Regions from separate parts of the Homo sapiens genome. Here regions 1, 3 and 4 are each reported to be linked to region 2. The links are microRNA targets in miRTarBase. Many come from high-throughput screens and were not tested one by one. Region 2 holds a microRNA gene; each other region holds the end of a gene's coding sequence.

Region 1 (3,000 bases), not on the chromosome of region 2:
CATTCATTGTGGGGAATGAAGGGGGAAGTAGGTGACATTAGCAGTACACAATGAGCATGTATAAGCAGCACACGTTTGAAGGAACCCGGCTGATTGTTAGAGAACAAATGTCTAGACGGGTGGCCCAAGACAGGGGCAGACAGGCTGCGTGTCTCCGGATGCAAACTTCCTACTGATTGCTGTCACTGGAGTACGCTCTATTCCTTGCTACCAAACCTGCCCGGAGTGTGAAGAACTTGTGTGTTTTGTGAGACTGAGATGTAGGGTTTGTGTCAGGGGCAGGAAAGGGGTGGTGACAAGAAACAGGAGAGGCTGGAGTAAGCAGGATCTTACACCCTACATTCAGGAGGTAGGGTTTTGTCCTGATGATGAAGAGTCAGTAAAGGGATTTTAGGCAGGGAAGGGATACGTTTCAGAAAGACTGCGTGGCTGCTGGGAGATGGTACAGGGCAGAGGCAGAAGACTGGGAGGCTGGTGGGAGGACAACGTCCAAATGAAAAAATTATAGTGTCCTAAGCCAGAAGAGAGAAGGTAGAGACTGGCAGACTCTAGAATCCTTTTAAGAGCTGGGAAAGACCAGACTTAGAAGCTGGGGAAAGAGATAAGGTCTTGACCTACTATGGGGTAAACCAAGTGGGTCACAACTGCTTGACACTTCAGCCAGCAAGATGCTCATGGGCCAGCATATCCAACCCTCCCCAGTGGCCCCACTGGCCATTTTAATCACCACTGAGGACACTAAGGTCCAGATGGATCAGTATTAGGCACCCTAGACCAGCTTTTTGGTTGGCAGAGGGGCCGGGATATCTTCATGAGAAAACACAAACCATCCCATCTCAGAACAGGTTGGGATCCAATCTCTTTATTGTCAGGGTCCCCTCCCTGTGGCCCCCCGCCAAACCTATAGAAAAAACCCAAGCCTGGGAGTGTCCTGGGGAGGGGAGGTAGTATGGGGAAACCCCTGTGCTCTACCCTCTGGCCTGGGCAGTGCAGACAGGGAGGGCTCATGGGGAAGGAGTAGGCCAGTAACTCCACCTGCAGAGGACATGGCACTGGCTGGGATGCGTTGGGGGAGGAGGCGCCTGCTGCCAGCTTTCCTCTGGTACCCGCTGGGGGGTGGCATCCAGGGTTGGGTGCCCGGCTTGAGGCCTGGGGCAGCGATGCCCTTCACCTGCTGGTGGCCATTGCTCCTGTCAGGCTGAGAAAGAGAGAGAGAGAAAGAAGAGACTAAGGCTGAGAGGAAGAGACCCTGTTGCTGATAAAAGGGGTAGGGAAGAAAGGGTGGAATGATGTCTGGAGACAGAGAGATTCTTGCACTCTGGCTGTGGCCTCATAATTTCCTGGCCATGTAACCTTGGGCAAGTCTCACCCGCTCTCTGAACCTCCATTTCCTCACCTGAGCCCATATAACTCACCTGTGAACTATTTTAACAAGCTTTGGAAAGCACCAGGCACAAAGGGGTGTAGCAGGATGGCTGGATATGGAGGTTTGTTTGCATCCCAGGCAAAACAAACCAAGAAGTTCCAAAAGAAGACTGCATATGTACAATTTTCTAAAGCTCTTCTGGAAGCCTTTGCTGGTGGGATATCTTACTACAGCATAAATGTGTCATCTATCCAGACACCTCCCTGGAAACACTAGTGTTTGAGACCTTCCTCCACCCAAGCCACCCCAAGGGAATGGGTCAGAGAGTAGTAGGCACAGCCAGGTGTGGCCTGGCTTTCCTTTAAGGTAGGGCAGAGTAGATGGTAAACAGTGGCCAGAGAGTGGGCTTTGAAGCCACACACCACTGGGCTGAAATCCAGGCTCCACCAACTACTACCTTATCTCCCTGCACCCTTTAGTGTCTGTTTCCACATCTATTATATTGGTACAATCATCAGCTTGTGGGATTGAAGATGAACTCAGAGAAAGCAGGTGCAGCTCCTGTCACACAGGGCATTTCCTCCCCATGAAAGAATCAAATCCCAGCCCCTAAGCCTGACACATACGGCCCTTCACAATCATCACCCTCTGACAATAAGCAGAGTCCTCTACCAACTAGGGGGGCACTGCAGCCACAGGAGGCTCTTGGCCTCACCACATACCAAGGACTGTCACAGCTCTGTATGGCTAAGGCCATTCCCCTGGTGTGGAACATTGCTCCCTCAATCACTAGCAGGCTCAGCTACACATCATCTCTTCCATGACCTGGCCTCGCTCTATTGTTATCCTGCTCACACTAGGTGGTAATGGCTTATGTCTTCCTCTACCAGACTAGGAGCTCCTCAAGGGCAGAGACAGGCAACATGGCTGAGTGTGCTGAGGGAAGGAACCCTTGCTAGGTGGGCCCGCCTGGCCCATCTACGGCACCTGCTTCCTCAGCATGGCAAGCCCCAAGCATGAAGGGGTGTGACGGGATGGCTAGATATGGAGGGGACTTCATTCTTGGGTATAGTCAGTGCTACTTGGCCAGGTATGCTTCGTGACACTTCCTGCCCAATCCAGGGAAAAGGCACAACCTCCACTTCACTGATTCCCCACCCTCTGCCCATCAGGACAGGACCCCTGTACCTGCTTACTGCAAGGCCCCATCATCCGCGTCTGTGTCCTGGCTGTGTTCCTGATAGGGAGGAGGTAAGAGAGACCACACATCACTCATTGCCAGCTCTGAGTCCTGCCCTGAGCCATTTGTCCAGAAAAACTTCATGGTCCAGAGGGCATCTAGAGGACACAGTCAGAAGACGCAGGAACAGCCAAGGGGAATGACTATGGGACCAGCCAACAAAGCTGGCTTGGGAACTTGGAAGGGTGGTCTGAGGACCCCACACAGGCCAGTGAAGGGTGTTCTGGGAGTGGCAGGAGCCCCATTTCTGTGCAGAGAGCCTGCACTGGAGAAGGCTGAAAGCCTTATAGACTGGTGAGCTCCCCATCTCTGGGGGCATCCAAGTCTTTGTTAGGGCCTTTATGGACACTGCTATGCCTGAGAAAATAAGATGAAGGATCAGGCTACGCTCAAA
Region 2 (3,096 bases):
ACCATGCTCTGTCCCCACCCCAATCTGCCAGCCCTACTGAGATATCAGTCAGCAGTAGTAAGGGACTTGGAGCAGACACAATTCCTGACTAAAGATGGCAGGAGTCCAAGAGCCTTAACTGACCGCTCGTGTGCCATTCAGGCACACTGAATTTTGCTTCCCTAGAAAGGAAACAAATCAGCTTCACTCTCCTTTCTTGGGGCAGATGAGTGCCTAAGGCCAAGGGAGATCAGCCAGATATTAAATCAGAGGGAAGACAAAAGGACAGCAATAAAAAGCAGGATTCTGCTTTCCAAACAGAAAACACTATTTGCGAAGCAGTAACTAATATCGAAGATTTTTACAACTACTACTATTTTTCTGGAAGGAGATAGCTCCTAGGATAGGAAGAAGTATTGTTCCTATGGAAATGTGCTAGAAACTTGCAAGAAGAAAATGAAGTTTAGCTCCTCTTTAACTCCTTTTTATCAGTCACCAGCTAATAACATCATTAGTGGAAATGAAGAACTACCTGAAATAAACAGCTATCTACAGACTATTAATCAGTAATGGGAAAAAGTCCCCGAAACTTTCAAAGAGTTTCCTCCCTACTCTAGACACTATGAAATAAGAAAATAATCACTACTTTAAAATGACACTAGGCCAGACACCGTGGCTCATGCCAGTAATCCCAGCACTTTGGGAGGCCGAGGCAGGTGGATCACCTGAGGCCAGTAGTTCACACCAACACAGTGAAACGTGTCTCTACTAAAAATACAAAAATTAGCTGGGCACAGTGGTGCACGCCTGTAATCCCAGCTACTCAGGAGGCTGAGGCAGGAGAATCGTTTGAACCCAGGAAGCAGAGGCTGCAGGGGCTGAGATCGTGCCACTGCACTCCAGCCTGGGTGACAGAGCAAGACTGTCTGAAAAAAATAAAAAATTAAAAAAAAATGACACTGGAGTAAATTTAATAAAAGCAATACAGAGCATGACATTTAATTATCTTGACAATTAAAAAAATTTTTAAGAATATATTTCTCTGTTATTCGTGATAAGCTAGCACCAGTCTTACTACAGTTGGTCAAATAACCTATAGCCTTTCAAAAATATATGAAGAGGTAGATATACAATTTTTGCTAATTCTTACTACAGTTATGCGATTAGGATGGTGACTTCTGGTTTGCAGAAAAATGTTAAGCAGCAGTCCTCAGTCATTATTTGAAGGAAATACTATTTCTGCAGTCTAGAAAACACCATTACCATCAACAAGAAAAACTCTTAAAATAATTGAAGAACCAGCTGACGCCAATCAAGGAGGTTCAAATCAGGTAGAGTTAATCCTACATTACCCCCAGGCACTGTCATATCCATGAAGCTAACAAGTTTAATACCTTGGGTGCATGAAGGAATACCCTACAGATTTGTAAACCAAATCCAGAAGCAAACTGGAGAACAGGGAATGCCACCCATCCCTTGCATTGCCCCCTTTCACCTGCTCAGCACGCAGTCTTCCAGGAGGAGTAGAACGAATGTACAGTTTCTAGAATGAGAACTCTTACCCTGGCTTCGGAACTTCTAGGAGGCATGGAAACAGGTATGTATAGGGTCTCCATTTCTCCTGGAAGGCTTGAGGCCAGCAAAACTCCTTACTCTAGAAACCGGACATTATACTCTTTAGGTCAAGCTGCATAATTTCCAATTATCTGAGTTAACAATCCCCAGCATGATCATACAAACCCCAGGCAGAGTGAATGCTGAAACCCTCTCTGGGTGACACCTGGCCTCTCTGTCCACTGACGTCATTCCTATCTCATTATGTACTGCAAAAAAACATGGTGCACCAATGTTACACGTTACCTATGAAGACACTCTCATATTTTACAGGCTTTATACTGTTCCTCCAGTATCTGAAGTCAGCATATTGCTGAGAAATACAGAAACAGAAAAATCACAAGCAATAAAAAAAACTTGTATTTAAAGAGAAAAAAAGGCATGTCAAATCAGTTCTCTCCATCCACAAAGAAATAAGAGTAGGCAAAGATCAGAATTACCAGCAGAAGACTTTATCCCACTTTACAGCTTCCCAATAAGTACCAGTGGCATTTTTCAAATACTATTACACAGATTCCATTTCTATTTCTCCTTTTCCTCTTCTAAAAGTATTCCATATTCACCATATGAAACAAGGTTTTTATGGAATAAAACTATTCTACACTAGAAACAGTGAGAAGAATGTCCTGGAGTCTTCCTTGAGGGTTACTCTAATGCCCACCAATTCCTCCCTTTGAGCAAATTAGCCCGTTCACTTGGACCTAATGACTTTCTTGCCATCAGCAACAGAAAGAGTCTGCAGCAATCCTAAAGAGTTTTTATTCTAGGCAATTCCCTTCACAGCAATGGTCATGGGAGCTGCGGGGGTGGGATCCCTGCCACTGACCTGTGCCGGTTTTTATTCTTTCGCTTTTTATGGCTGCTGTGGTGACTCCCTGAGGAAGTAGAAGAAGCAGCCTTCTGAGGTTTCACTCCCTGCACAGATCCATCCAGATCCTCAGGGTCCTCCTGGCTGGGCTCATTTTCCTGATTGTGGAAGTCTGGAGAAGTGTCACTTTCCGTCCCACTTCCTGGCTCCCCTGAAGGAAATAAAACACAAGTTTCCAAATGCATCATCAGTACTCCTCAGGCAATCTGTCCATCAACATGAACACTAATAGGTAGAAAAAAACCATTCCCTATCCTCTAATTGACAGAGAAGATACATGTTGACAGAGAAGATACATGTTGACAGAGAAGATACATACAAAGGATCCAAGTGACCAAAGGTCCTGAAAAAGCATGTAATCTGAAACAATGTAACCAGAGAGAACAGCTCTAAGGGCAGTTTTTGTTTTTATAGAGATGAGAGTCTGGCTGTGTTGTCCAAGCTGGTCTTGAACACTTGGCCTCAAACCATCCTCCTGCCTCAGCCTCCCAGAGCACTGGGATCACAGGCATGAGATACTGTGCCTGATCTATAGTCTTAAAAATATATATGTTTACACAAGTTGTTATTGAGTTTGCTTTTATTAAATGTAATCTACAGTGATGTACAAAAAAAACTACAGTGACTGTACAAAA
Region 3 (3,096 bases), not on the chromosome of region 2:
TCAGCCCGTGTTTGGGAAGTCTAGGTAATTTCTCATTAGAAAAACCTCCAGGTGAACCTGCTGTTCTGTGAGGGATGCACAGGGTGGCTGCGTCACTTCCTAGACTACCCTGCTAGTTGTGATGCTTGCTGACCCGGAGCAGGTGGATCTGAAAGAGCTGAGCATGCCCTGAATTTCTATTTGAGTTACCATATGCCTTTGGCTGTTTATTTCTTTCAAGTATGAGAAAGCTTACGTATTCAATTATTTCAGGTTCACCACTCACCTCCTCAGGAAGTTCCTGGAAGGAGTCATTAACCCCACCACAGCCTTTCCCGTGCTCCCAGTTCCACCACTGGAGGCCTGCATGTCAACGGCAGGGATACATAGAGTGTAGACTGCAGGCTCACGATGGGCAGGGATGCAGTATCTGGTTTCCCACACTCCGCAAAAGCACACACCATCCTGTAAACCACTGCAATCGATAAAGCTGCCTTAACGAGCTCAGGATACCAAAACAAAGATCTCTCTGCAGATAACACCTCATGAGAAGTATCTGCAATAACCCCAAGTCAACATTTAGGTTTGTGTACAAAATTACCAGAAAGCAGAAAGTAGGACAGAACGTAGAAAAGGGCAAACAAAACAAAGAACAAAGAATCTTCCTCCAGAAATTTTTCAAGAACTAATGCCAGACCCAATGGGAGACTCGGGAAGCCAACACCCGTGGCTGGTCGGATAGGAGCACACCGGCCGCCGGCCTGGGAGCCACGCTCGGCCCACCCCTGATGACAGGCATCCTCCCGAGGACCTCTGATTCTCAGTGAGTGTAGGCCATCTTACTATACTCCATTAGCTGGTGACATGCAAACACCTGTGATAAAACTAGTAACATTCAGAAGCTGTGCTAATCACAATGATTTGGGGTAGGACTCCAACACAATCTTGGGAAAAAAAACATTTAATGTAAATGTTTAGCCATTAGAACATACAAATAAATAAATAAGCTCAGAATAGCTGAGAAAAAAACCACAAATAAGTGAATTGTCAATTTCTCTTCAGTCTCAGATATGCTATTTCCAAAATACTAATAAAATATACAAATTAACTAATAAGATATAGAACATTCAACATAAAACAACCTAAAATAAAAAAGACCAACCCTAATTATTTTATTTCTGTATATCAAGACTACAAATAGCATTTAAACGCTTAATTTATTATTCAAATTAAGAAATTATACATTTTGTTTTGATAATGTTCATTGTCTTAAAAGTGTCATTCAGCTTTCCCACTTTAAAAGTATATTGCTAATTATGGTCAATTAACTATGACAGCCCACAGAGCCTCCAGTGACAGTAAAATACGAGACATAGAAGAGATAAATGAGGATTTAGATCCCCTCCCCCCAGCATCAGCAAAGGGTCACTCTGCTCCCACAGCTGACGCTTTGAAACGCTTTCTGTTTGTAGAGACTAAAATCACCCAGCAACAGGTCAGGTCCTGATAAAGTGCCTACTGCAAGAACTACCGACACTCCTCTTCCCTGGATGTGCACCAGGGACTGTCCCGTCTTCGAGTCAGAGCAGCACCAGGAAGCAGAGGGTGCCAAGCATGGCGAGTCACCCCCAAATATCCAGGAAGACAAGTGGGCGCAGCCCAGGGGAAAGGAGGGCGAGCGGATGATGGGAGACCGGCACGGCTAGCATCGGGACAAAGATGCAGCCGCCACTTTGGTTCAAACAACTTTAATGACACCACAGTGTCTGTCCTCCCCCAAGTAACTGGGTATAGTGGGTGACAGATGTTGCAGTAGCTTGGCAGACCCTCCTCCTCCACCTCCCCTGAAAGCTCTCCAGGCACAAAGTGGAGATAGAAATAGGACAATGAATGAAGTCCCCACCTCACATCCACAGACAGTATCTCCAAACCATCATGAGGCAGGCCACGGTATACTGAAAACAAGCATGCTAGTCCCATTTGGGGAAATGGCTTAAAAAGCACAAATAAAATATTACCATCATCATCTCTTTTCCAAACCTAACCACTTTGGGAAAGGCAGCAGAAAAAAAAAATGCCTTCAGTTTTAATAATGAGGCTTGTAAACAATCCAACCACATAAGCAGCAGCGGCCCCATGGCGTCTCAGCCCTCAGACCCTGTATCTCTGCCGCCTGTGCAGCCCTGTCTGAACCCTGGAGTGGCGCTGCCTGCTCAGGAGGGCTCTGATCTCACCAGCAAAGCCAAAGCTTCATCTTTGGTTAATTTCACTGAGATGCCACTAGTGTAAAAACTGTGCTCTTCTTGGCAATATTACTAAAGTAGCCACATGGCACATAACGTGTTATTTTAAGTTATTTGAAAAGCAATGTCCATCTAAATAAGTGACCACACCGTAATAAAAATCATTTAAAAAAGGAAGGGAGGGAGGAATGGCAGAATGAAAGAAGGAGCTTAGGAGAGCCTCAGGCGTGCAGTGTGAGTATCCTCGTGGGTCTGGGGAGGCGCTGCTGACGAAGGAAGCACTGGTTCTCTGTAGGGGTCTGACCCCAGCATCAGCTTCAGCTCAGCTCAAAGCCAGCGGCACATTCAATCGCATAGAGAAGTTTACTTCGCAAAAGTGTCTCGTCATAGAACTCGGGGAGCTTCAGCAGGTTCATGCAGGTGCTGGCTGTGGGGAGCCGCTCAAGGTCGGAGCCTCCGTTGTGAATACAAAATGCGGGATACAACTCCTGAAAAACAGCATGTGTGCAAGATGTCACTGTAACAAGCATGGCATTACATGAGTTTTAATACAAAGTACACAAAATGTGCCTGCTCCAATCAGTAAAGTTACCATTGCAGTCACATTTTCCCGAAACCACATTTGCTTTGTTGTTGTTGTTTGTTTTCTTTGAGATGGAGTCTAGCTCTGTCGCCCAGGCTGGAGGGCAATGGCGCCATCTCAGCTCACTGCAACCTCTGCCTCCCAGGTTCAAGCGATTCTCCTGCCTCAGTCTCCCAAGTAGCTGGGATTACAGGTGCCTGCCACCATGCCTGGCTAATTTTTGGATTTTTCCTAGATAAGGGGTTTCACCACGTTGGCCAGGATGGTCTTGAACTCCTGACTTTGTGATCT
Region 4 (3,096 bases), not on the chromosome of region 2:
GCCTACAGGCCGCTCTGGGCTCAGGCAGCCTCCCTTGTCCTCCAGGCTCAGAGCTCTCTTCCTTAATGAGATACCAGTCATGGACCAGTTCATGAATGACTACGTGGAAGAAGCCAACCGGGAAATTGAGAAGTATAACCAGGAGCTGGAACAGCAGGAGTATCATGACCTCTTTGAGCTGAAGCCCTAGAGGAAGGCTGGGCCCGTACGTCCTGCAGAATGTCCACCTTGGAGATGGACGAACGGGTGTCTTAACCTCAGCTCTGCTGGAGGCCTCTCCCTTAAGGGGCTGTCTTTGTTCTCCTTGGCCTGTGTGGGCTGGCTTGAGTGCATGTTGTCTTTATTCCCTGTATAGCGCTGAAGAGCATCACCTGCACCATTGATTTTGGGGGTCGGGGGAATACTCAAGGATGAGCAGATGGGGCCTGCCCGTCTACGTGTGCAACTGGCAGTCCAGGAGCTCTGGGTTTCTGATAACAGGATCTCCTTTGGGCTCTTGAGGTTGGGGAGAAGCATTAGGATTACACAGAGGAGCTACTGGGACTTAGAAGGAACCCTGGCTGCCTGAACTGTGGCCGTGTCTGGGAGGCGAGGCCACGACAGGCCTCAAGCCTCAGATGCTGCTCCACGAGAGCCATCTTCCCCAGTGGAGTGCCTGCCTCCCCTGCTAGGCCCGTTTCCCTGAAGGAGCTGGCCGTACTGGCCGTGGGCCCAGTCCTGGGAGGAGCAGCACAGCCTTGCCCAGGCCCAGTCCACAGAGCCAGCAGCTTGGGTTGAGATGAATGATGTGTTCACAAATGAGGGGATTTCCCTTCTGGACTAAACTGAAGGAGAGGCTTGTTGCTTTCCAGAGGTGTGTGGCTCTTAAGTTGACATCAGCTTTTCCCCTTGTGGGTGGTTCTTTAGCTCTCCTGTCACACCATTCGGGTGTCCTAATGTAGGGACAAGAGCAAGCCTGCTGCTCAGGCCCCCTGGCGAGGCTTCACCTCACTGTGGAAGGGGGCGTCCTGCAGCTGGTTAGTCTTAGGCCTGGTGGCTGATCACTTGTGGGGTCAGTCTCCAGCACCCAGCGCTCCCACAAGCCTTGCCAAGGAAGGCCTGCTTTTCAGCCACAAACTTCAGGAAACTCATCCCCCCGCTCCCCAAAGTGTTGTTGCTGGCCCTGGGCTTGTGTGGCTCCTGAGGATTGGGAATTTCAAATAATTGCAATACCTGAGTTAGAATTCCTTCTAATGGCATCGTTTTAAGCTGGACCATAAAGCAGAGGGGAATTACAAGTGTGTCCCATGCCTGACCTTCATAATTGGTGTGGGGGACAGGGGAGTCACAGCCACTGATATTTAGGTGATGTCTCTTAGGACTTCAGTGCCTCAGCTGCCTGAACTGTAAATGTTTTCTGAATTTCACATATTTTTTTTTGCATGCCTTAGGAAGAAGCACATAGGTAAAACCAGCAGTTTCCAGTAATATAGGGGGTTTTTGAGCAAGGCCCCTGGAGCAGCGGAGAGACAAGATGGAGCACATGTAGTCTGTGTGCCTGGTCACACAGAGGCCTGCATGCAAGTAGCAAAGCAGCTCTCAAGGGCTTGTCAGTAAAATATATTAGAAAAAAAAAAAAAACAATTTGAAGCCAAATGAACAAAACTCCAGATACCATTGATAAGAAATTTTGCATCAAGAAGGGCTTCTGAAAAGACCCACGTGCTCCAGTCCCAGCTCCAAAAGCCACTGATGACAAGGGCCCCACTGTGGAACCTAAGTCTGGGAGCCCCCTGACTTCTGGCTGGCCAGAGGCTGCGGTCCGTCAAGGGCTTGCCTCGCTTCAGAATCAGTAACATAGATCTTAAGTGCAATTGATTAATAAGCAGTGAGTTACTGTAGCTTCCTTTAGCTCTACCGAACTCTTTTTAAAAACTCAAACTTGAGCAGCCTTAGAAAAGGGGTTGGGGGGTGGGAACCACAGGCCATTTCTCTAAGTGGGCTGCTGTGAAGTTTTAAATGAAAGCTCTAGCTTTAGGAGCTTGAGCCATTTCCTGACTGCACTGGCCTGGCAGTCTGGCTGCTGCAGAAGAGTTTTTAAAGAGGGGTCGGAGCCCGCCCGTGAGAGCGGGTCTTCTCACCATGTGGGGCTGTACTACGTGGTGGTCTTTGTTTCTCTTCACAGAAATGCTCTCTCACCAACTTGCCCCACTGTCCCAACTCCTCTCCTCTTAGAGAAAAAACTGTGATTACCTCAACTTGAATATGAAACTGTGATTGAAAAAAGTCAAAACGTGAAGAAGCATCAAAGCCAAAAAGGCAAAACTGGCTGAGGCCTCTGTTGATGCTCCTCAGCCTACTCGGGAACGTGAAGGGGCAGCTGGCGAAAGGGCATTCCTGGGGCCACTTGCTCTGCCCCACTGATAAGGCACACCCGCGGTGCACTGTGAGCTCTTTGAGGACTGAGGCCAGGGGATGCCTCCTGGAACCTGCCAGGCCTCTCTGTTCTGTGAAGGTCAGTATCCACTTGATTCCTCCAGGCGGCGCTCCAGGTGGGAGGAGCAGGGTCTTCTGCTGTTTCCAAAGGAATGGCCATGACACTGCTTTTGACCTTAGAAGTGGATCCAGGGACCCAGCAAAGAGCGGGGGTGGGTTCCCAGGGACAGGCAGTCCTCCCGGGGCTTACATGCTTTTTGCTAACTTTCCTATTAGCAGCTTCAGTTTATATCACCCAGAGTGCGTGGGATAATGTTGAAGTCGCTGAAGTTACGGGTTATTTTATGTTTTTACATGGGATTTTTCTGTTTTTGATTGGAAGAAGGAGACAGAAATTGGAGGAAATGGGATTATTATCCTAGGGAAGGGCCGTTGGCAAGGAGTTGAGCCGGCCCCTCTGAGCCCTGGGGGCTATCTGACCTGAAGCCTGGACACTGGGCCCTTCAGGTCGCAAGAAAAAGTTCCCTCCTAAATTCTATTAGGATTTTGGAGAATTTTTGCACAGTAAGAAGCTCTGGGTTGCTCCTTGGGCTTCTCAAAAGGGAAAAGTTCAATTCAAAGATTGTAAACTACGAAGTATTCCAGCCGTGTTGCTGATCTAGTTGGATAGTTGTACCTCAA

What was found. The annotated mature microRNA hsa-miR-5581-5p reads AGCCUUCCAGGAGAAAUGGAGA and lies in region 2 at 1,589-1,610, opposite strand. An mRNA with a match to its seed (bases 2 to 7 or 8) in the 3' UTR can be bound and repressed. Matches are read on the target gene's strand: a 7mer-m8 pairs with bases 2 to 8, a 7mer-A1 pairs with bases 2 to 7 and ends in A, and an 8mer does both.
Region 1: the mRNA of RALY is a reported target of hsa-miR-5581-5p. The part of its 3' UTR that is shown has no 7-base or 8-base seed match.
Region 3: miRTarBase lists UBE3C as a target of hsa-miR-5581-5p. Seed matches in the 3' UTR shown: 7mer-A1 at 2,055-2,061.
Region 4: the mRNA of DNAAF9 is a reported target of hsa-miR-5581-5p. Seed matches in the 3' UTR shown: 7mer-m8 at 192-198 and 7mer-m8 at 1,092-1,098.

What each region holds. Positions count from the first base shown.
Region 1 is chr20:34,078,108-34,081,107 of GRCh38, reverse strand. It overlaps RALY (RALY heterogeneous nuclear ribonucleoprotein), which reads right to left. Exons shown (of 10, transcript NM_016732.3): 9 at 2,555-2,603; 10 at 1-1,198. The coding sequence ends at 2,559. Among named protein-coding and RNA genes, the nearest start is that of MIR4755, 30 kb to the right of the region's middle.
Region 2 is chr1:37,499,385-37,502,480 of GRCh38, forward strand. MIR5581 (microRNA 5581) reads right to left here and starts at 1,610; the gene lies at 1,551-1,610. MEAF6 (MYST/Esa1 associated factor 6) reads right to left here. Exons shown (of 7, transcript NM_001270875.3): 5 at 2,420-2,612.
Region 3 is chr7:157,267,199-157,270,294 of GRCh38, reverse strand. UBE3C (ubiquitin protein ligase E3C) reads right to left here. Exons shown (of 23, transcript NM_014671.3): 23 at 925-2,710. The coding sequence ends at 2,540. Among named protein-coding and RNA genes, the nearest start is that of DNAJB6, 68 kb to the left of the region's middle.
Region 4 is chr20:3,249,666-3,252,761 of GRCh38, reverse strand. DNAAF9 (dynein axonemal assembly factor 9) reads left to right here. Exons shown (of 37, transcript NM_001009984.3): 37 at 78-3,096. The coding sequence ends at 190. Among named protein-coding and RNA genes, the nearest start is that of SLC4A11, 12 kb to the right of the region's middle. RefSeq lists an enhancer at 1,979-2,479.